Regions from separate parts of the Homo sapiens genome. Here all the other regions are linked to region 1. The links come from fine-mapping of genetic effects on gene expression. A gene starts in region 1. Each other region holds a variant in brackets. All regions are shown on one strand. Distances are between the middles of the regions. Region 1 holds the start of CRISP2 (cysteine rich secretory protein 2). Region 2 overlaps CRISP3 (cysteine rich secretory protein 3). Region 3 has its middle 16 kb from the start of PGK2.

Region 1 (8,308 bases):
ATCAGAATAACCATAAAAATTGGCAACCAGCAGCCCTTGGGGCTGCTCTGCCTATGGAGTAGCCATTCTTTCCTCTAACAATTTGACCTTTTGACTTGGGGTTTTATATGTTGGCATACTTCCAGGGTCTTGCATTACTCTTCCCTTGGATTAGGCCATCTGCATGTGCAGTAGCCTGCTAGCACTTGGGAGCAGCCTCATGCACAGTGTGTTTAATGGAGTTGTACACATGCTCACTTGAGAAATTTTTTCTGTACCAATACAGTGTTTCTAGAAGAAGTGTTTCCCCTTGATTTAGTTCTAGAAAGTCCTTTCGTTCTCTGCCTCTAGGCCCTATTCTCCTGCCTCAATTTCCCCCTGAAAGATGTGATCTCCATAAGTCTTTATGGGAGGTGGAACAACCGATGGTCTTTCTTCTGTAAATGCTTTATGACTGGTGTGGGGATCACAGACCTCTTGCCTTGCTCTCTCTAGTGAAGGAAGGGTAGCTCCTTGATGGCCAGGGGAGGCATCTTCACCTGGAACTGGCTGGAACCCTTGTCACATGATCATCTAAAGCTTAATCGTCTCTAGGCGAGAGGAAATGAATTGGGTTAAAGATTTAATGGGAATTTTAGGGGGTGGATACCTATTCTTTCAGCAATGTTTGTTATGGAAATTTGCAGGAGAAAAACAAAACCTGGTCTTTTCTAGGATCTATGTGTTTCCTTAATGTCTTAGCACAAGCGACTCTGTTTTGGTTTGGTTTGGTTTGGTCTTTTGGGGCCTAGTGCATGAACTCAGTCCAAAACAATTGCCTCCTATGCTTTTGCTTAAAAAGAAAATTCCCCCCTTTTTGATAAGGTTCTCACTTAGGTGAGAGTGTGACCAAAACTTAGGGCCTTAGCACCACTCTCAGTTACCATTATTTCGGGTTTCTGGTCTCACCACATCATTCATAGGTTATGGTGTCCTCATGGTCACACATTTCTTTCAGCTCTTGTCATTCTAATTGAAGAGAGACCATTTGACATTCTAGCAATGGCTGCGTGGAAGCACTTAAAACCTTTGAGAGAATACAGTGTACCAGGGAAACTATTATTATGACTATCGGGAGGATAATACCAAGAGTTTGGAGTATGCTCTTTACCCAGGTTACCCATAAACCAAACCACCTAAAATTAAATAGATCAAAAAATGAGCTAAAGAGTCTACTTACTTAACTAAGCAATCTCTTCATTTATCCTCTACAGCTAAATCTCTATAGTCTTCATCTGATGTATTTCTCCATAGGCCACAAGTGCCAGCAGCTGCACAGATACTTCTCTATTCAGCCAATTCTATCATAATTTTCACAAGAGAATTTAAAGTCTGGTATTTAACTATATCCTATACAGTAGAATCTGCTATAGAGCCTACTATGAGGAATGCATTTCTAATCATTGCTTCTTTTACTCCAAACCATAGAAAAAGGAACTAACAAATGATGCCCTTCTAGAAAAGCAAAGGACTCCTGGCAATGTTCTTAGAAGTACCTGTACTATTCCTCTCAGTAATGGAGATCTACTTTCCATGTGCTCTCCAACACATTCAGGCACCAAACTTACAAGTCTTCTATTCTGGATTTGCCCTTCATACAAAATCTATCAACACTTTTTAAAAATCTCTTCATATTCCACCCTTTTGTCCTATTTCTACTACTACAAAATTAATCTGGGGAATTGTTACCACACTTATTTTTGCTGCCATCAATTTCTCAGCTCTGTAAATCACCCCATGCAGTGAGATCAGGTGGCTTTTATGAAACATTCTTTTGATCAAAGAATTTCCCAACCCTCCAAAATGTCAATGAAATTACTTTCCCATGTTATACAGAGAAGCAAATCTCCTTAGACTTCTATACAAAGTTTCCCCAACCTTTTCAACAGTCTTTCTGTCTTGAATATGCCTTGTGATATAATGATTTATCTGCTTTTGTTCTTCAACTCTTTCTCCCTTCAAATCAAGCCATACGCATTATTCAATAACAGTTCAAATGTCAAAACTTTCCTAGGTTTTACCCAGATCATATCAACTCACAGAACTCTCAATTACTGTATATATTTTTGGTCGCCCTACTTAGCATTAAACTACACTACCTAATAGTATTCTTTACTTATTCATATACATACTCCTTTCTCTCATAGTACTATGAGTCTTAGAAGAAAGAGATTTTATGTCCTTTTTTCTGTATTTTCTAAGAATCTATGTCGGGTCAATATTTACTCACTTAACAAATATTTACAAACTACCACCTATATTTGGTATTGTGTTAGTTTTGGAGATACAGCAATAATCAAGACAGACATAGCCAATTTCTGAAATTCAGGTTCACCAACAATATCTGGCACCACAGCGCTCAAGTTGCTCTCATTCTGATATCATCAATGTGAATATGGGAACAAGTAATAATTACAGGAATGACTCTTCTCCAAAAATGAAAAATAAGATATTCACAGTAAATGATAGACTATTATAGTGCTGAGAATGAATTGTTCGGCACTAGAAAGAAAGAACAAATAGGTAGGCAGAGATTTTGTGCATATAGGTATTTGAAATGTCCAATTAATAACTTAAGCAAGATATGGTGAAAACATGAATATAGAAGTGAGGGACAGATTGAGGACTAGATTTCATAAATATTTAGAAAGGCAAACTGTCAGTAATGAATTTTGATATTGGATGTAGATATAAGCGTTAAGCAGTCTAAATTCCAAAATTTTTAGTCAGTGCTGCATGAACTGAAATAAGCAGCAAAAGAAAACTAAAACAATGTCTGTGTGCTGATCCCTTGAAATTACCTTGTAACACTGCCAAAGGAAAATGGCACTGAGCACCAAGTTTGTTATAGTTTCAGTTGTGCCCAAGTGAGTCTCCAGAGTTGGTGAAATCTCAAGCCTCTTATTGCATGGCTTACAGAGAACCAAGGTATGACGGATATTAATCCTTGGCTTGACATCTTTTGACCCATCTCTCTTCCTCTAGGTCATAAGCGAATTCACTCCTTTTCGCTTTGAAAACAACTGTGAATAGAAGAAAATGCACCTATTACTCATCCGCCTTCTGAGAGAGAAAACATGTCTTTAACCCATGCTTGATACGTATGCTAAACTTGCAGCCAGTAGCCTTGGGTCAGGAGTTCTGCGTATTTTCATAAGAGTTGTTCCTGTTACTCTTCGTGAATTTTCTCACCATAAAACTGTTGCCAACGGGGAAGAGGGACAAGAACATGAAGTGTTTATGAGGGAGCCTGAAACTGACAACCTGTGTAACTGGAGTGCGTCGTTGGCATGACACTGGCAGCGCACTGCAAACTTAAGCACCTGTGGACTCCTAATTAGCTCTTTAAATTGAACTACATTAATTCAGGCATTCTTGTTTGAATGCGAACGCCTCCTTTTTCAAGCCACCCCCTGGGCAACCCGAATCCTTATATGACCTCCCTCCTCCTCCTAGTACGGCGCAGGTATGCGAACAGACATTTTCTTTCCTCATCAACTGGTGGTAATGAGAAAAAGAGAACTCTGCTTTTCACAAGGGAAAACGTGCAAGATTTTCTCCGTAGTAGGGGAGGCGGGGGCGATGGGAGGAGAGCAGCTCACGTAGGCAGATAGCGGCGATGAAAGCATAAAGCCCAGTGACGTCGCCCACACGTGGCGCCTGGCAAGTGAACAATCGCGGTGAGAGGGGCGCGCCGCAGCTCCTCAACGCCGCAACGCGCCGGCCCAACTGCAGGAAGGTCTGTGCTCTGGAGCCAGGGTAAATGTAAGACCCGGATTGGAGACTAGAAATGGCTAGGGACGGGGAGGTGGGGTGAAGCACAGGGGAGAGAACCATCGTTGAGGTGAGGGGGTTTCTGATCCTCCTTCGCTCCTCTTCCGGCATCTGGAGGGCACATAGCTAATGCCGGGCAGACTGAGAGTTCAATTTTGTTGCTTAGCGCCGACCTACCATAACTTTCAACATGCTTCTCTATGTTTAGTCTATTGAAACTCTTTACCTACCTTAAAAGAGAAATCATTCTAAGTACATAAGACCCATTGAATCATAGTAGAAGCCTGAAGTCATTTCTCAATCTGCTTTTTACGAAGTCAAATTAAGACTCTTAGTTTCTAATTGATGTTTTGAATGTACAGTTATTAGAAACTGTAATAACAATTAGAGTTGGGGTCATTGACTCTGCTGGACTTTATATCATCTATTGGCTTCCAGAATTTAAAAAAAAAATGAAGAGACAAAGCTGTTACCCCCAAATCCACGTAGTTAATACTTACCATGTGGGACACTGCTTATGGAAATGATCTTTTAAAGAATGGGTTGAAGTCCTAGATAAGGGGTTGGGAGTCTTGAAAAAAGGTTGCAATTTTCCAAGCAAGTTAGCCAACTAGTAGTTACTGAACTTCAAGAAGTCCACTTTTTTGTTAGTGTTTGAAGGAAATATCAGGGCGTTGAAATACAATCTGACCTCAGAAGGACAATATGGTCTTAACGCTGAAATCAAATAAATACAGTAAATTATTAGAAACAATACTAAACAATTGAGTCAAAATTTAAGTTTGTGACAAAGATTATAGATACCATCTATAAGGGTATTCTTCACATCTTTATTTTAAATATTTTGTTTCCTTGTTCTAGGGTTATAAAATTATACACCATGGCCCTCCTAAAGACACTCTAGGAAAACCATGTCATCCTGATCTTAAAACACCTGCAAGAAAGAGCACAGTACTTCACCATTAGTAAGTAGCAAAGAAAAAAAATGGTAGCCAACTTTTCAACTATATATCAATATGGGTTTAAAGGAATAAAATGTAATTATATGGAATAGAAAAAAATATTTTTCCTTGAATATACTCTCACCAACAGTGACATTGCTTTCATTGACTCAATGAAGATGAGTATAGGTTAGATGGTTGAGGTTATGAGAGAGAAGAGCAGCAAAGAGGAGAGTATGGCATCATGGCCTATTATAGAATTCTGGCTCATCAGATGCATACACTGGGTGATTGAGCTATACAAAACTCTTCAGGCTCCTGTGTATGGCTTTCAATGAGCTGATGAGGATACAACAGCCCAGATGTTAGAGCATTTTCCTAAAGTCAGCCAGAAGGTGTCTAATAGAACCAGGCCTTGAACATGTGAATCTCGAATTAGATTATACTGATTGTATTTTCCTATAACACCTGGAAGGAAACACATGTCTCTTAAACACTTAGTAATTAGCAATTCAATCAAACAGCATATGTTTATAGAAAGCTCTTATGAGCTCAACAAACTAGCAGACATTGCAAAAGATAATAAAAACATGAATAATTTCCGTTTATTTGTATTATGTGCATAATGTGTTTATTGTATTAGAGGTGTTACATACATTGTCCCTTCCAGTCTTCAAAGCAAAAACCTGTGATATAAAAATCTACATTTTACATAAGAAAAACACTGAAGCTTGGCATAGATTTCCCAGACCTGATGGTTTCCAAAGAATGCACCCGTAACCAATAAGCTACAGGTAGTTGATAATTAGAAAGTAAAAATCATAGACAGCTGAACTATGAGAGTTCAGCTATAAGGCAGAATCCTGGTAACCTTCACAGTAGTTAACCTGTCTTGGGTTGTCAATATAGAAATACTAGTCCAAAAAGGCCACATGCAGATTATCGTGTGCCTAAGGAGAAGGGAGAACTGATTAGAAAGGGAGGGCATGATTTACTTACTCATGTTAAAAACTATGTGGGAAGCAAATAATGTCAAAAGCATTATCAGACAACTGACAATGAAGTTTAAGGTTACTGGTATGAAAAATACTACTTCAGAACTTTGTTGACTTAGATTTATTTAACAAAACCAGAGTTTGACAAAACAGGAATATGTGTAATATATATGCTGCTCTAAACCTTCCACCTTCTTTCTTTCTAAAGATAAAGTAGATATTTCATCCTGCTCAGAAAACCAACAGTAAGTGTTAAATCATTGATTTTAATGTGAATATTTTATCATGCCAATCATTTTTATGTTGTCAAGGGTAAAATGATTAATGAGTTTGCCCATGATTTTATTTTTTTGTTTTTTGTTTGTCTGTTTGTTTGTTTGTTTTAGAGACAGGGTCTCTTTCTGTCACCCAGGCTGGAATGCAGTGCTGTGATCATAGTTCACTGCTGCCTCAAACTCCTAGGCTCAAATGATCATCCCACCTCAGCCTCCTGAGTAGCTGGGACTACAGGCACTTGCCACCATGCCCAGCTAATTATGTTTTGTTTTTGTTTGTTTGTTTTTAGTAGAGATGAGGTCTCACTGTGCTTTCCAGGCTGATCTTGAACTCCTGGGCTCAAGTTATGTGCTCTCACCTCAGTCTCCCAAAATGTTAGGATTATAGGAATGAGCCACTGTGCCTGGCCTATCCATGATTTTCAAAACTTTAATAAATTTGTATTGAGAATGACCTCAAGTTAATTTTATTCTTTTACAGTTAAGAAGGTAAATTACAGCAATATTACGCACACACACAAAAAAATTTGATATGTAAAAATTTTTTACATTTTATTCTAAAAATAAGTAATGGAATTAATTCTCATGTTTGTGACTTGAGACAATTATACTAGAACTACCTTTAATAGGAAAATGGAAAAGTATGGCTGTTTAAGTATATTGTATAAGCTGGCATATTAATGATTTTACTATTAACATATACAGTTATGTATTAATAAGGGAATTATTAAAGTAAAAATAAAGGGTCTCCATTGTGCTGCAACAATGTCTGCCTTTTCCCAATTAAAACTGTGTCTCTTTCAATGAGTCAATGTCTCTTTCAAAGTCATTGACTTCGAAGTCATAATTGGATGAAGACTAATTTCTGACATTACCTAAGAACGTAGCATTGGCATAGGTTAATTAACTGTCTTAAGCCTCAATTACATCATCCATACAATATAAATAGTAATACCCAGTAAGGTATGGGAGTGAAATTGTATATCATTTTCCATGAACCGTCAATAATTGTTCATCCCTCATCCCTTTTTTGCACATAATTGAGCATAAAGGCAATGGATGGAACAAGTATCAATGATACACTATTTACAGTAAGTGAAGCCTGAGAAGCATCACAGATAAATTGTTCGGAATTTTCTTTCTTTCCAAGAATTTGGGAGTGACAGTCTCACACACAAGAAACAAATCTAGGCAGCATAACTTTAATTTACAAATTAAACAATTTATATGACTAATGACAGAAAGGTGAGTGTTTCCAAAACTAAGTGGTCTTGTTGTTTCATCTGAAGGACGTGAGACTTTTTGACATATTGAGAAAGGACAACATGGGTAACAAAATGCTGAGTGTCTTTTTAGGAGATAATGAAAATACGAAACAATCTTCTTACCAAATAATGGATTGAGTAAACTTGAATAAGCTATATCTTCAATGCATTAATTGTATTTTTTGTATACAGAGAAATTTGAAAATATTCACAAGTATAAGGAAGAAAATAAACATAACTTCTAGTTACTCCATTAGGGAAATAACAGCTAATAAAGTATTTGCACAACCATATCTGTGTAATCACAACCTTGTCATCTTAATTAGAGTCTGGTATAAATAAAAGGACAAACCGTTTTACTTTTCGTATAGAATAGCCAATTGAGAGATGGTACATATTGAAAATAAACTTTCCTCCAAAAATTGAGATGAAGAATGAATGTCAGTACTATAATTAACTATTAAGGAATCTATTTTCTTTTTGATGGCGTAAGGGTAGCAGAAGTAGGCAGAAAGAAGGGAGTAGGTCTCTCTCTTTTATAGATGTACCTCAAGGGCATCAGTAGAGTTCTTCAGCTTTTTCTTTATTGTCACTATCAAAGACAAGGTTGGCCTCATTATGATTCTACTAGTACCATAGGGCAATTCTTCTTTTGTTCCATTGTTAATGAATCTGGGAATCACAGTTCCTTTGAGATAATCGAGATCATTATATTGGTATTCCCCCTCTTAGAAGTTTTTTAAACTACATATTTCAATGCAGACCTTTGTTTTTCTTGACTTAGTTTCCAGCAATGGCTTTACTACCGGTGTTGTTTCTGGTTACTGTGCTGCTTCCATCTTTACCTGCAGAAGGAAAGGTAAGGTTAAAATGGAAAATCTTTTCAGAGCTATCCAGCAACTTTGTGGTATGGCAGGCTATTCTGAAAGTAAAGGGGGGTAAGAGAGTTTGGTATGTCAGAGTTTCCACTGGTTCAGAGTTCTCAGAGCACTTAACACAATTATTGAGATGAAAGGCCAAGGTTATGCTGTATGTGTTCT
Region 2 (8,308 bases), 23 kb before region 1:
AGTTTAATTGTATTATATACATTTATGCTTCAGAAAGACACAATTTGCTCTGCTGTAGATCTGGAATTAGTAGCAAACCATCACTATTTGAAATCATAAATCTTTGAAATCCAGGGACTTGGTTTTTCTCTAATCACACTTGAGATAAATTATTAATTTCTTTGAAAAAGGAAAACCAGAACAGAACAGAAAACCATATAAAAGGTAGGACTCAGTGACTTACACATAGCAAAATAACTCTTTCAAGTGAAATGAATTAAGAGAAATCTACTGCTTATTTCCAAGGAATAGTAGAAAATAATGTATAACTAATACACTTAGAAATTGCTTCATGGAAGTGAATGACAGGAGAGGCTATTTTTTTTTCATTCTTTCTAGTACCTTCTATGTGACGCTACTACTAAATGGAATTGCAAACAAATCATTTTCCACTTGCACCTGCTATTTACAGTAGTCCCTTGGGAGGAGAGGTGGGGATGGAGTGAAATATTACAGCGACTCTCTGTCACCATTATTGGTCTTAAAGCTGATGTTACATCTTTATCATATTTATCTCATTCAAGTTGTTTACTCCCTGAGCCCTGAATTGTGCTAGATTCTTCCCCATCTCTCTCCATAAAGCATTGGAATGGATCACTGTAAAAGGAAATAAAATTTTACTCTCCTCTTTTGCACACATGAGAAAATTCAACCAGCTCCCCCTCTGGGTACTTGAATGATGAGCTCCCGTAATTATATACCAGGACTCTGAGGGCAAGAACCAAGTCTTGTTCACTTGATCATGTGCAGCAATATTATAACATGTTATCCTGAATAGAGTGTACAAAACTTGATAAATGTCTCCTAAAGGAAAGAAGAATACCTAATTGTCTTTGACTTACAAATGAAAATAAGAATCTGTTTTTCCTCTTTTGCTCTCAAATTCTGCAGGAGACGCACTAGAGGGCCCATCTCTAAATACAGCACACTAGGAGTTAGGGCATCAACATATTGATTTAGAAGTGGAAGCAGGGCCAGGTTAAGTTATTTCTGAGTGAGTTTCAAGGTCTATAACACTAGTAGTTTGAAATCTTCTGGAGCTCCAGATCTGCATTCTGGCAACATCATTTTTCGTGGATTCTTTTTTTTTTTCAGACTTCAAGTGTATTTATTAATGCATTGGACAAAATAAAACCACACTTGTTATCAAAAGTATATCTCCCCTGCTCCCATTTTCTTGTTCTTCCATTGGAAATATCTTTGAAAAAGTGATACAAATGGATACCAGCAAAGTCCCATATTTGCGGGGTGATTGTGGGGCGATGCTGGGACGAGATGGTTTGTGACATTGACTTTAATAGCATGAAAATGGGTTTTGCAAGTGTATATCAGGCTGCATCCCAATACTTAGATTCACAGTGGGCGGGGTGGTGGGGTGCAGAGGTGCTGGTTAGGAGAAGGAAAGCTGAATTTAGTGCTGGGAACCAGTCTGGGGTGGAAAGCTCTTCCTCTGGGAGTTCTGTGGGGATTTGGTGTTAGCTAAGTTCATAGTCTAAGGGAGACCCAGTCCCAGCCCCCAGAGCTGAGGTTCAGGAGGAACCAGTGAATAACTAAGAAGGAAGAGCTTTTGTAGGATGAGTCACTACTTCTATTAACGTTCAGTCCAAATCAGAAGGCTAAGGATCTACCATATACTATTTGTTCTGCTTTCTTGTTTTTAAACTTAACACTGAAGCATAAGCTTCTTCTCTGAGGTTACAAAACAACCATAAATGTATAGTGGTTTTTATGTCTAATATACTGCCATAAGAGGATGTATTCTCATTTACTTAGACATTATATCTCCCTATTGCTAGGCATGTAATTAATTTACAATGTTTTAACCCTTATAAATGATAACATGATGAAAATTTTATGCTTAAAACTTTTTAGTATAGTTTATAATTTCAGTAGAATTCTAAGAAGTTGAATTAGTGAGATAAAGAATGTGAACATATTAAGGATATTAATACAGATAGGGTGAGTAATCCCTTAAACATGAGAATCAAATTATTACCTTTTTGTTTTAAGATCCAGAGGAAAAAAATGTTGCCTTTTTAAATTTGAGGCATGGTATTAAAGAAAGTTTTGAGAGGAAAGGAGTTAGGATGCTGGCTGCATGGGTAAACTTGAAGAGAGTAGTTTAAAGGTATGCATAAAAAGCATATACGTAGAGGACTTTCTAGGGTTTGAAGAATGGCAAGTATATGAGCCAGATCCCTGACGGAAAAGAACTGGCACATGCTAACTTTTAATTTGAAGAAATGTTAATAAGGTTATATTTATAAAAGTGTAGACAGCACTTAAGGAAATCAGCAAGGGCTAATGCAGTAGTATCCCAGTAATAAACACAGTTGGAAGCTACTGAATTGTTATTGTGAAGAATCCACTCCTACAACCTAAAGACAGTAGTTACACAGAGAAGACTGCGGAGCTGCGGAAGAAGGAGGTAGAAAGTCCTTAGCATTTATAGGCATGCTTCAAGGGCTTCAGTCGGGAATTTTGGTTTGTTCTTTATAGTCCCAGTTGAATGCATACTTTGAAAGCTGAATCCACTGTCATTCTGCTGGCTCCATGTGACAAGTCTTCTCCTGTTACATTAATAATGAATTTGGGATAATGGAGGTCATTACGTTTCTCCCACCCCCATGTTACTCAACAGCATGTACCAATCATTTTAATGCAGATCCCTGTTCCACCGGTTTTGTTTTCCCAGCAATGACATTATTCCCAGTGCTGTTGTTCCTGGTTGCTGGGCTGCTTCCATCTTTTCCAGCAAATGAAGATAAGGTATGGTTGAAGTCAAAAATCTTCAGAAAAATTCAGGCAACCATGAGGGATGGCAAGCTACTAGATCAATCTTCAAAAGTGAAAAGGTCTAGAGTGTCTGGTACATCATAAAGTACTCATTAGTAGCTCAAGGTAGTTAACATAATTATGTTTAAAGCTGTGGTGATCAATATGGTAGCCCCTAGCCACATGAGGGTATTGAAGTTCATTAATTAAATGACTTTGCTCCACCCCGCAAATTGCCTTGGAGATTTTTTTTAATGTGGTAAAACTATCTTTTGAGTGATCCCATAATATTTGCTACGTAATACATAAAACTCTTTTACTAGAGTATTGCATGTTACACATGCACTTAGGCTGAGCCTAAGCATTTTTTCTAAATACCAGACACCATTTCAGGCAGAAATTCCCCCTAGAGTCTTAGGGTAAATCATATGCCTCAATCTTTACAACTTCTTTGCTGCAGCCTGAGTGTGAATGTCTTAATAATT[A/C]CTATCATGTACCCTTGTCACTATAAGATGTTATCACTCATATATTTAGAAAAATCACATTAAGACCTCTCTTAACCCAGAAATTGGTATTTGTGGCCTCAGAGGAGATTTTAGTTTGTCATGCCATGAATTATATCCCCATTCTGAAAACTTTCATCTAATACTTTTCCATTAAAAAGTCATAGCTTTGGCAGTCATTGACAATGTTTACCTAGCATTGGCAACACTTTTTAAAAATGGTCTTTGTTCCCTTGAACTAACATAGTTACTATTATGTGCAATTTCCAACAATGTTAAAAGATAATTGTAATTTTATTTTCCCTTAGGATCCCGCTTTTACTGCTTTGTTAACCACCCAAACACAAGTGCAAAGGGAGATTGTGAATAAGCACAATGAACTGAGGAGAGCAGTATCTCCCCCTGCCAGAAACATGCTGAAGATGGTAAGAGGTGATATTGCAAAGGAGAGGGGTGTGAACAAGCTGTGGAAGGAGTAGGCGGCTGGCAACTAATATCTCTTAATAACTTTGAAGTTTACAAAGTTCTCTCTGTATTTTTTTGTTTCATTTGAGCTGTGTAATGGGCAGAGCTGAATTTCTTAACTTCTCTTTATAATGGTTGCATAACGTCAAATTCATAGGGCTATTTAAATTATGGAGGCAGAATTAAAACCTAATCTTTGGACATACGGTGAAAAGCCATTATGTTTTTCTGCTCCTTATCTTATCTGTCCTAATCTGAGATCAGAAAGACCTTTTCCTTTTAAGATAAATGCCATGTAGGGTAAATAACAATCTACTTTTCTGGGCCCTGTACCAAAGGCCACATGTCTCCCGAACATATTCAGTGAGGGGGAAAAAAAGAAAAAAAGAACTGGAAATGAAGTAAGCCAGCTAATTACTTCATTGTTGGAAAAGCAATCTCAGCACCTCCACATGTTTATCAATATTTAGAACAGGACCATTACAAAAAATCTTTAGGTGTTTCTGATGTCCTGTGATAAATAATTGGACCATAAACCTAGATTTTTTGATTACTTAGGGTAGGCATATTACCTATATTTCTTTGTGGAGCAGATAAAAGCACATAAAAAATATATACATTTGATTACTATAAAAATCAGAAGATGCTTGTACAGAAATTTTATGATGATGTAAATCAACCTATAACCTGATTATAAAGCTTATGCTCCTTTGAGGTTTGAGACATTAAGTGGATATCTTTTTTCTGTCCTTGTTTCAGGAATGGAACAAAGAGGCTGCAGCAAATGCCCAAAAGTGGGCAAACCAGTGCAATTACAGACACAGTAACCCAAAGGATCGAATGACAAGTATGTAAATTAGGAAATATTTGTTGAATAAATCAACAAGTAAAATAATAAACCATGTTATGATGTTGCATTAAGAAAAGTTTGTAAATAAATATTGCTTCTAATGCTACCTTTTTCAATATGGACTATCTACATGTAGAGATAACTCTGAGAAGCACCATCTGTGCTTACTGTTTTAAATAAATTTTACAAAAACCGTCTCACACAGTATCATATTTTTACCTCTCAATCAGCTCAGGAGTAAAGCAGGTTACAGATCATCTCTTTCCCAATTACAGAGATTAGAAAATCAACAGCCTGGAAGAAAATGATGATTGGCAATTAATGTCATATATAGGAAATTTGGAATTAGAATTTCTGGCTTCTAAATCAGTACCCTTTTTAGTGACAATATGCAGCCTATTTGTGTTTTGAAACCTACTTAATTTTTTTTCTATAAAATATTTTAAATTTTGTCAAACTGTTCCTGAATTTTATGAAAAACGTATTTAACATTAGCATTAACTTTTATTATTTTCTTTTGAATTTTTGATGACAGTAAGCCATGTCTTTTATATTTTCTGGATGTTTACAATGCATACTATATTAAACTAAAAAAATGACCTGCAAGACATAACCTATACATCAATAAATATAAAAACAATTAGATAAAATATCATATGGATGAGCTATCAGATAAAATACTTATTAAATTATCAAAAATAACATAGGTAAAGGCAAACCAAATTTACAAGTGGTAAATAACTGGCTTGTTTTGAAAATAGGACAGCCACTGTTATCTATATTTTTGATATAAAACTATAATAAATTTATGAAAGGGGGTAACTATGGTCACGAGAAGATTGAAAGAAATGGTCTTGAAAATCCCAATCTATTGTTAAAATCTTAGCTTCTTTCTTTCCCTCTCAAAGGAGCTATACAAAGGTAGTTTATACTCTCTTTAAGTAGCATGTAGACATTCCTTGTTAAGCCATCCAAATATAAATATTAATTTTAGGGCTTGAAAAAGTGTTGAAGTATTTCTGGGCTGCAAGGCACTTTTTTCCTTATTTTTTGACCAGAGTGTGGCCTGTGATGTTCTGATTTGCTAAGAGGAGGCCTGTAACCTGTGAAAATATTGTCTTTTATGGTGTCATTTGCTTCATGTTTAGGGCTCTTAAAGACTGAGCATAAGACTTTTTAAAAAATTCACACAAAATAATAATTCTAACCACTTATTCAGATTCCTATATATGAAAATCTCTGGTGAGTATGGGCTAGAGCAGGAGAGGAATTACTAAGTTGATCTCTGTCTTCAGCAAGCTCACATTACAAAGCTGAAAGCTCATAAGGCACACACATGTGAAGAATTCAATGTGTAAATAAATGAATCCAGGGAGAGCAGACATTAAAGAAAAAAGGCTTCTCCATCTACTCAAAGTTTTGCATGTTGAGACCAGCCTCAAGTATTGGGCAAATCTGGCTTCTATTCAGCTTATAGCTGATAAGGATCTGAGGCACCCTCCTTATGTATTAGTCAATATTCATTAACGGTGGGTACTGGGGACTGTATTTAAAAAACAGGGATTCTGCTGTGTGTAGTGTGTGTGTGTTTGTGTGTATTTTGCCATTGCATGCTTTATTGCTTTCCTCATGAGTGGTCTGTTCCTTCTTAGGTCTAAAATGTGGTGAGAATCTCTACATGTCAAGTGCCTCCAGCTCATGGTCACAAGCAATCCAAAGCTGGTTTGATGAGTACAATGATTTTGACTTTGGTGTAGGGCCAAAGACTCCCAACGCAGTGGTTGGACATTATACACAGGTAAGGAGAAGAAATGAAAAACCATCTCCTTTATAAGTGCCCTAAAAAAAAAGGATTCTTCAAATTTTGACTGATTCCAAGTTGAATTTGGGGAAAATTTCAAGTGAATATAGAATAGTCTGGCATTTGGTGAGTATTTCAGCTGTGAACTGTCATTTTTCAGTAGACTGCAGGATCATGGTAGGGAAGCATAATCTTTGTCCAACGGTCTCAAAAAGGAATGTACATGGAAATGTAATATTTTAAAGTGTTTTAGTTTGATTCAATAATTTAACTAAATATAGCCATAAGGTATATGAAAACAAAATATGTCGGTAACATTCTTCTCCATTTTGTATTTCCTACTATTTGTTTTTTGGTATTTCCTTCTTCTCTAATGTGCTCTCATATCTTCACTTATTGGTTTATAGGTTGTTTGGTACTCTTCATACCTCGTTGGATGTGGAAATGCCTACTGTCCCAATCAAAAAGTTCTAAAATACTACTATGTTTGCCAATATTGTCCTGCGTAAGTATATATTTTAGCGTTTATTGTCAATAATGCTAAATACAATTTAACATTTAATAAAAAAAAACTAAAAAGCATATTTAAGTAAAGGTGAAGGAGATTAATCTTTAGAAATGTTTTCTAAAGTTGAGACACATTCAACCAACTTCTCAGAAAGATAAAGTTTTCAGTTCCAGTTCCAAGTATTATTGAACAGGGAGCTGTCTTTCCTCATGCCTAAAATAATTTGTCTCCTCTCTCAATTGCCTTTTGCTATGCTCACGGTTACTTCATAAGTACATGTAGTGTGTAGTTATCTAAATATAATTTTATCAGTTCATGCTAAGTTTACACACGAGAAACTGGAAGCTTGATAATTAGTCCAGGGATAAAGTAAGGTAACAAACAAATAAGGAATGACCCATTTTAGCAATATCAGTCCTTTCTGCTCAAATGCTCTTACTCCTGCTTATCAGAAAATTTCACATTATACATTAAGAAATGATTAAATCTTGGACCTCAAAGACTTTTAAGAGATCCCCAATATATTTCAAATAGCCAAGAAAAGATAATGTCTTAAATTTTTGCTTCTTAGAATTTACCACAAAAAAAATTTCATGGAACCTTCCATTAAGATCCTAATTTCTTAATTATCTCGGGTTTTCTGCAGAAAGTCCACTTTTTTTTCTCAAGCAATATAGTTGACCTACTCACGAAAAAAAATCTGTGGATATATTGAAGATATATTCACAACATATCTATTAGCTTTAATTTCCTTTTAATATTTGAAGTTGTTCACCACTAGTGGGAGGGGTTTTCCCCAAACTCAGCTTTCTGCATGGCTTATTTTGAGGCTGTAGATATCCCAGGTGATGTAGGATTCCAGTCTGAGAAATATGACCTGTAAGGTCATTTTTCAGCAAAGAATTATCATTGTTAATACAGAAAATTGAAAGACCCTGGGAGACTGCCTCCAAATGCCTGGTCATTAGAGGAGAGCATCTGGAGTCAGCATCTGAAGTGAGAGTTGGAATTAGTAATGAGAGAAAACAGGGAAAAGAGAACTTCCAGAACACTTTGATATCTATTTCACATTTTCTTAAGTGCTCACACACCAACAGCTATATTCTGTGAAGAAAGGCTGAGATTCAGCTACATAGCCTTGGACCGTTAGCCTACTTAGTGCAATTAAGACTTTGACTTTCTTGTATTTTCAGATGATAATTACCGATAGGAAAATAATCATCAATGATGTACAGGCTAGTCACTGTAAGATGAACACACAGAGGAGATTAGTATTAATTAAATCTTTTTTTCCCTAACATTCCCATTCTTGGCAAACATAAACATCTCATACACACCACCTGTAGACATTCCCAAACCTTTCCAAG
Region 3 (8,308 bases), 90 kb before region 1:
AGGAGCTCTTACAAGGCAGGCCTGGTGGTGATGGACTTCCTCAGCATTTGCTTGTCTGAAAACAATCTTATTTCTCCTTCACTTAGGAAGCTTAGTTTGGCCAGACACAAAATTCTGGGTTGGACATTCTTTTACTTCAGAATGTTGAATATTGGCCCCCAATCTCTTCTGGCTTACAGAGTTTCTGCTGAGAGGTCTGCTGTTAGTCTGATGGGTTTCCGTTTGTAGGTGACCTAGCCTTTCTCTTTGGCTGCCCTTAACATTTTTTCTTTCATTTCAACCGTGGAGAATCTGAGAATTAGGTGTCTTGGGGTTGATCTCATGGAGTATCTTACCGGACTTCTCTGGATTTCCTGAATTTGAATGTTGGCCTGTCTTGCTAGGTTGAAGTCCTCCTGGATGATATCCTGAAGTATGTTTTCCAACTTGGTTTTGTTCTCCCCGTCTCTTTCAGGTACTCCAATCAGTCATAGGTTTTTTTTTTTTTTTTTTTTTTTACATAATCTCATATTTCTCAGAGGTTTTGTTCATGTCTTTTCATTCTTTTTTCTCTATTCTTTTCTGCTTGTCTTATTTCAGAAAGACAGTCTTCAAGCTCTGAGATTCTTTCCTCCACCTGGCCTATTTGGCTGTTGATACTTATGATTGCACTGGGAAGTTTTGTTGTGTTTTTCTGCTCCATCAGGTCATTTATATTCCTCCCTAAACTGGCTATTCTGGTTATCATCTCCTGTAATTTTATATCATTATTATTAGCTTCTTTCCATTGGGTTAGAACATGCTCCTTTAGCCCAGTGAAGTTCATTATTACCCACAGTCTGAAGCCTATTTCTGTCAATTCAGCCATCTCAGCCTCAGCCTAGTTCTGTGCCCTTGCTGAAGAGGTGCTGTGATCATCTGGAGGAGAAGAGGCACTCTGGCTTTTTGAATTTTCAGCATTTTTATATTGATTCTTTCTCATCTTTGTGGGCTTATCTGTCTTTGATCTTTAAGGTTGCTGACCTTTGAATGGGGTTTTTGTGGTGTCTTTTTTGTTGATGCTGCTATTGTTGATTTCTATTTGTTTGTTTTTCTTTTAGCAGTCAGACTTCTCTTCTGCCTCTTCTGTAGGGTTGCTGTGGTTGGCTGGGGGCCCACTCCAGGCTTTAATCACCCGGGTATCCCCTGCACCTGGAGGTATTACCAGTGAAGCTGCAAAAGAGTACAGATGGCAGCCTGTTCCTTCCTCCCAGAGCTCCATCTCAGAGGGGCACCATCCGATGCCGCCCCGAATGCTATTACAAGAAGTGCCTGGAGATCCCTGTTGGGAGGTCTCACTCAGTCAGAAAGCATGAGATCAGGGACCCACTTAAAGAAGCAGTCTGGCAGCCCATTGGTGGAGTAGGTATGCTGCGCTGGGGGAAAGCCCCCTCCTCCAGACCACCTGAACTCTCCAGATCCAGCAGTCAGGAAAGGGTAAGTCACTGAACTGTGAAGACCACGGCCACCCCTCCCCTGAGGGACTCCACCGAGAAAGATCAGAGTTCTTTCCATGAAACATTGGCTGGAGTTACTAAAATTATTGAAGGGAGGCCCTGCCCATTGAGGAGGGATGGATTGGGGTCTCACTTAAAGAAGCAGTCTGGGCCTGGCGTGGTGGCTCACGCCTGTAATTCCACCACTTTGGGAGGCCAAGGTGGGTGGATCACAAGGTCAGGAGTTCAAGACCAGCCTGGCCAATATGGTGAAACCCTGTCTCTATTAAAAATACAAAAATTAGCTGGGTGTGGTGGCGGGCACCTGTAGTCCCAGCTACTCGGGAGGCTGAAGCAGAAGAATGGCTTGAATCCTGGAAGTGGAAGTTGCAGTGAGCCAAGATAGTGCCACTGCACTCCAGCCTGGGCAACAGAGTGAGACTCCAACAACAACAAAAAAAAGAAGCAGTCTGGCCATGATCTGCCACAGCAGCTGCGCTCTGCTCTGGGGAATTGCTCCTGGTTTGGACCACCCAGACTCCCTGGAGCTGGCAGGCCAAAACAGCAAACTCAGGCTGCAAAGATAGCAGCTGCCCCTCCTCCAGGGAACTCGAACATCTCATGCAGTATCCAGCCTGCTGCCTCTGGCCAGCTGGAATTCCAAGCCAGTGGGTCTTAACTTGGGAGCAGGGCCTGCTGAACAACGCCACTTGGCTCCCAGACTTCAGCCCCTTTCCTAGGGAAATGGACAGATCTGCCTCACCAGAATTCCAGGGGCCTGAGTTTGCAAAAATTCCTGGGTCTCTGTGTGTGCCTGAGCAACTGCCAAGAGTCTGCCCAGCTCTGTGCTTTGGACCTAATGCCCTGGTGGTATGGGCTCACAAGGGGATCTCTTCATCCACGGGCTGAAAAGATCCATGAGAAACATGTGGTTTCCTGGCCCGGGTCAAACAATCACTCACCACCTCCCTTAGCTAGGGGTAGGGGTTCCCCTGATTCCATGACACTCCTGGGTGGACCATCACCCCACCCTACTTTTCCTCACTCTCTGTGGATCATGTGACCACCTAGTCAGTCCCAAAGCCAGAACCTGGTTAACCCAGTTACCTCAGTTGAAGGTGTAGAATTCACTCGAAATTTTCATTCTTCTCCATGAGAGCTGCAGACTACAGCTGCTTCTAAGCAGCTGTCTTCCAGAATATTTTTTTTTTTCAAGACGGAGTATTGCTCTGTCGCCCAGGCTGGAGTGAAGTGGCGCGATCTCAGCTCACTGCAACTTCCGCCTCCTGGGTTCCAACGATTCTCCTGCCTCAGCCTTCCGAGTACCTGGGATTACAGGCACACGCCACCACGCCCAGCTAATTTTTGTATTTTTAGTAGAGACAGGGTTTCACCATGTTGGCCAGGCTGGTCTGGAACTCCTGACCTCATGATTCAACTGCCTCGGCCTCCCAAAGTGCTGGGATTACAGGCATGAGCCACCGCACCCAGCCCAGAACATTTTTTTACTGCATATTTTTCTGAATATTTTAAGCCCACTGTTGAGACGGAATACTGACAAAATAATATTGCTTTCAAAATGTTACTGGTCATTGACAATGCACCTGGTTACCCAAGAGCTCTGATGGAGTTGTACAAGGAGATTAATACTGTTTTCATGCCTACTAACACAACACCAATTCTGCAA[C/A]CCATGGATCAAGGAGTAATTTTAATTTTCAAGTCTTATTATTTAAGAAATACATTTTGTAAAGCTATAGCTGCCATAGACAGTGATTTCTTTGATTGATCTGGGTACAAATTACCTCCCCCATAAGAGAAAGATTCAAGTTGCTTCAAAAATTAAAATAATTTGTGAGAACGTGTATTAGTGTGTTCTCACACTGCTAATAAAGACATACCCGAGACTGGGTAATTTATAAAGGAAAGAGGTTTAAATGGCTCAAAGTTCCACATGGCCAGGGACACCTCACAATCATGGTGGAAGGCAAAGGAGGAGCAAAGTCACCTCTTGCATGGTGGCAGGCAAAAAGAGCCTGTGCAGGGGAACTTCCCTTTATGAAACCATCAAATCTTGTGAGACTTATTCACTGTCACGAGAACAACATGGGAAAGAACCAACCCCATGATTCAATTACCTCCCAATGGATCCCTGCCATGACATGTGGGAATTTTGGGAGCTATAATGCAAGATGAGATTTGGGTGGGGACACAGCCAACCCATATCAGAATCCAAATGTGATTAATATGGTACATAGCTCACATATCTCAAAAATGTGAGACAAACTAATATTTCCCACTCCCCTCTTTATGACCACAGCCTTTCAATCATGGAGTATTTCAGCAGCACAGAAATCTCATGGCATATGCCAGGATTACTGTCAGGGGGAGGAAACAGACTACAACCCTCTCAACTCCAGCCTCTACCCCTTCTCTGTGGCAGTGTTATTTTCAGCATATTATTATAGATTAAACCACATAGTAGATTACACTGCAAAACTTTAAAGATATTGAAAATCAATTAAATATGATTAATTATAAAACATAAAATGTTTATGCATGTAAACATTATAAAATTATTAAAAAGTATAAAACATGGTTTTTATTATGGAGACTGCTATTGGATATATTACAACTGTAATTAAACATTAACCCTAGACTAATGAAAAGATTTGTTTTATGAAAACTCAGTAATTGGTTGCCCTAGTCATAATCTTTTATGTCCTACTGAAAGCTTTTCTTTTTTTTTTTTTGAGATGGAGTCTTGCTCCATCACCCAGGCTGGAGTGCAGTGACATGATCTCAGCTCACTGCAAGCTCCGCCTCCCGGGTTCATGCCATTCTCCTGCCTCTGCCTCCCGAGTAGCTGGAATTACAGGTGCCCGCCAGCACGCCCAGCTAATTTTTTATATTTTTAGTAGAGACAGGGTTTCACCGTGTTAGCCAGGATGGTCTTGATCTCCTGACCTCGTGATCCGCCCACCTCGGCCTCCCAAAGTGCTGGGATTACAGGCATCAGCCACCGCGCCTGGCTGTCCTACTGAAAGTTTTGAGCTCTGTAAAAACACAAAGTCAAAAAGGAAAATAAGACTCCTGTCTATTGCAAGACAATTATGCAGGCATATAGAAGTTATTTTTCAATTTTTAAGGACCTCTTGTAAGGCAAATATAGTGGTAACAAATTTTCTTAACATTTTCTTGTCTGAAAAGGATCTTATTTCTCCTTTGCTTACGAAGTTTAGTTTGTCTGGATGTGAAATTCTTGGTTGGAACTTCTTTTTTTAAGAATGTTGACTAGGCTCCCAATCTCTTCTGGCATGTAGGGTTTCTGCTGAAGGTTCTGCTGTTAGCATAAGGTCCCTGTGTAGGTGACCTGCCCCTTCTTTCTAGCTGCCTTTATAGCAATGTGGATGGAGCTAGAGGCCATTATCCTAAGCAAACTAATGCAGGAACAGAAAAACAAATACTGCAGGCTCTCACTTTGAAGTGGGATCTAAACATTGAGTACTCATGGAACAAAGAAGGGAACAAGAAACACTGAGGCCTACTTAAGGGTGGAGGGTTGGAAGAAGGTGAAGAATGAAAAGCCACCTATTGGGCATCATGCTTATTACCTGGGTGATAAAATAATCTGTACTGCAAAACTCCATGACATGCAATTTACCTATATAACAAACCTGCACATGCACTCCTGAACCTAAAATAAAAGCTTAAAAAAAGACAGAGCAAAGGAATAAATGATGCTTTAAAAAGACTAATGAGCTATCAATGGCAATCTAAAATAAATCCTAAGGCGTTAATTTAAAAAAAAATAAAAATTTTTTAGAATGCAAATTTTTTTTAAAACTTTACATTAATAGCTTTAAATGGGATATTAATTGTTTCATTAAAAGTAAGTATTCATACTTACTAAAGGATTAGTCTATTTTGTTCCTAAAATAATTGATTAAATTTGCTTATATTAATATAGATTATTGGTCATCTCAGCACCCAGAATTCTGTACATAGGATAATGAAAGGTATATTTTACATATATTGCCAACAGAAAAGTGAAACCAAGACAAATTGAACAAAATTTTCCATGTCTTCTTACTAGAATGAATAGTAGATTCTATTCATATCTGTAACTCACTTCATTGCCAGGCGCGTCCTGATTTCAGAGAAGTTAAAATTTGAAAAAAACAAAGTGTGTCTGAAATATGCCTGTATTAGTCTATTTTCATGCTACTGATAAACACCTACCCAAGACTGGGAAGAAAAAGAGGTTTAATTGGACTTACAGTTCCACATGGCTGGGGAGGCCTCAGAATCATGGCGGGAGGCGAAAGGCACTTCTTATGTGTCAGCAGCAAGAGAAAATGAGGAAGAAGCAAAAGTGGAAACCCTTGATAAACCCAACAGATCGCGTAAGACTTATTTACTATTGTGAGAATAGAATGGGAAAGAACGGCCCCCATGATTCAATTACCTCCCCATGGGTCCCCCCAACAACACGTAGGAATTCTGGGAGATACAATTCAAGTTGAGATTTGCTGAAGACACAGCCAAAACATATCACTCCACCCCGGCCCCTCCAAATTTCATGTGCTCACATTTCCAAACCAAACCAACCATGCCTCCCCAGTTTTTGTTTTGTTTTGTTTTGTTTTTTTGGAGACAGTCTCGCTCTGTCACCCAGGCTGGAGTGCAGTGCCGTGATCTTGGCTCACTGCAACCTCTGCCTCCTGTGTTTAAGCAATTCTCCTGCTTCAGCCTCTCTAGTAGCTGGGACTACAGGAGCATACTGCCACACCTGGCTGATTTTTTATATTTTAGTAGAGATGGGGTTTCACCCTGTTGCCCAGGCTGGTCTTGAACTCCTGAGCTCAGGAAATCCACCAGCCTAGGCCTCCCAAAGTGCTGGGATTACAGGTGTGAGCCACTGCATCCAGCCCACAGCCTTAACTCATTTTAGCATTAACCCAAAAGTCCACAGTCCAAAGTCTCATCTGAGACAAGGCAATATTATAAAAATCAAATTATGATTTAAAACAACAATAAATACTCTAAAAACTGTGATGATTACTTATCTGGACAATTAACTTTACTAGAATTTTTAGTCATGCTTAGTTTTCCAAACTTATTGATTTGTTCTGCACTTAAATTTCCTCCTATTTGAATAAAATTACCCATAGTTGGTCTTTTGTTTTTATTTATTTTTTAAAAAGCTTCTTTTGTCTCCCAGTGAGACAAAAATTCTGATATTCTTTATGATTTGAACTACTTTTAATTAACTCTCCTATTTAAATTATACATTAGCTAGATATAAAATTTAGGTTAAAAATTGTTTTTGCTAACTGTGGAAATGTTTGTATTTAATTCAGTTTTTTAATTTTTAATTTTTGTCAGTACATAGTAAGTGTGTATATTTGTGGGATACATGAGATGTTTTGATACAGGCATGCAATGTGAAATAATCACATCATGGAGAATGGAGTGTCCATCCCCTCAAGCATTTATGAAATAATCACATCATGGAGAATGGAGTGTCCATCCCCTCAAGCATGTATCATTTGTGTTACAAACAATACAATTACACTCTTTTATAATGGTTATTCTAAAATGTAAAATTAAGTTATTGACTATAGTTACCCTGTTGTGGGATCTCAATCTGAATCTTTTCCCTTGCAGTGATCTGCTTTTCTATCTTGGAAACTTAAGAAAACTATATGTTCTCGGTGTTAATGTTCCTAAAATGTATTGTAGTGTTTCTAGAGTGTGAATTTGTTTCAAATATTGGCTATTCTGCATATCATGTTATGAACACTTTGAACCTGAGATCTGATTTTTTATTCCATTATATGATGTTATTTGTTAAAACCTTAATCATCTTCATTTTATATATTTTCTCTTTTTATGCCTTCTCTGTGATTGATATTAATATTGTTACAAATTTTAATTTCCTCACACCTTAACTTTGTCCTCATTCACTTTCTCTTGGCCCTTTTCTGGTGTGTTATGCAAGAATTAATCCACAAATTATCTGATCACTCATTCATTATTTTAAAAGCTTTTATTTTACCATGCAATCTATCCATTTAAGTTACATATTTCAACATTTTTTGTATCCAATATGTTGAAGTGGTTATGCTTTATAACGGCTTCATTGTCCTTCATATTTCCATTGTAATTATTTAAGACTTTTTTCATTTATTTAAATCTTGTGTTAAGCTATGAATTTTGCTTCCTTAGATATATTTTGTTATCGGTTAGCTTTCACTCATAATGCTGAAGCTCCTCAGACATGTTGAATTTTTCTCCTTATAAATACCTTTATTGTCTTTATTACCAATCTGCAGGGTAAGCCAAGCCTCAAGTGCTAACTAAATTTATGTGTGTGTATTGAAATTGGAGGAAAATATACATTGAAAGAGCCTCTTATGATATAGTGCATGATTTCCTGCTCCCTGTTCCCACTTCCAGCAGATATTGTCTGTCCTCCAGGAAATATTACAGTATGTCTACTTCAATAGCTTCTTTCCTAGATTATCAGCTGAGAGCTAGAGCCTGCCAGACCTAAGCATAATTATTGTTCTTGGGGCTTCACCCCAGCCTGGCTCCAGTATCGCCTCTGTAGAACTCTACAATTGGAACAATAAAAGAAAGAGAGATTTCAAACTGGTCCCCAAAGCACTGGTTTCAAGCTTTTTATCCAAGATTCTTTCTCTTTCATCTCTTTTATTTGTCTTTTCCCTTTTTTAGTTTCTCTTTCTTCAATTTTGTCTTTTCACTTTTTTAGTTTCTTTCTCTTTTTTCTCTTTTATTTGTCTTTTCACTTTTTTTCTTTTTTCCTTTTTTCTTGACACTTTATTTTACTG

The links. PIP is the estimated chance that this variant, and not a neighbour inherited with it, causes the effect.
Region 2: its variant is fine-mapped to the expression of CRISP2 in whole blood (INTERVAL, PIP above 0.99).
Region 3: its variant is fine-mapped to the expression of CRISP2 in whole blood (TOPMed, PIP 0.95).

What each region holds. Positions count from the first base shown.
Region 1 is chr6:49,708,950-49,717,257 of GRCh38, reverse strand. CRISP2 (cysteine rich secretory protein 2) reads left to right here and starts at 3,715. Exons shown (of 10, transcript NM_003296.4): 1 at 3,715-3,783; 2 at 4,654-4,757; 3 at 5,937-5,973; 4 at 8,053-8,127. The coding sequence starts at 8,062.
Region 2 is chr6:49,731,825-49,740,132 of GRCh38, reverse strand. It overlaps CRISP3 (cysteine rich secretory protein 3), which reads left to right. Exons shown (of 8, transcript NM_006061.4): 2 at 2,735-2,808; 3 at 3,626-3,742; 4 at 4,542-4,629; 5 at 6,285-6,430; 6 at 6,841-6,938. Among named protein-coding and RNA genes, the nearest start is that of CRISP3, 8.4 kb to the left of the region's middle. The variant A/C (reference allele first, on the strand shown) is at 3,300.
Region 3 is chr6:49,799,184-49,807,491 of GRCh38, reverse strand. No RefSeq gene overlaps it. Among named protein-coding and RNA genes, the nearest start is that of PGK2, 16 kb to the right of the region's middle. The variant C/A (reference allele first, on the strand shown) is at 3,142.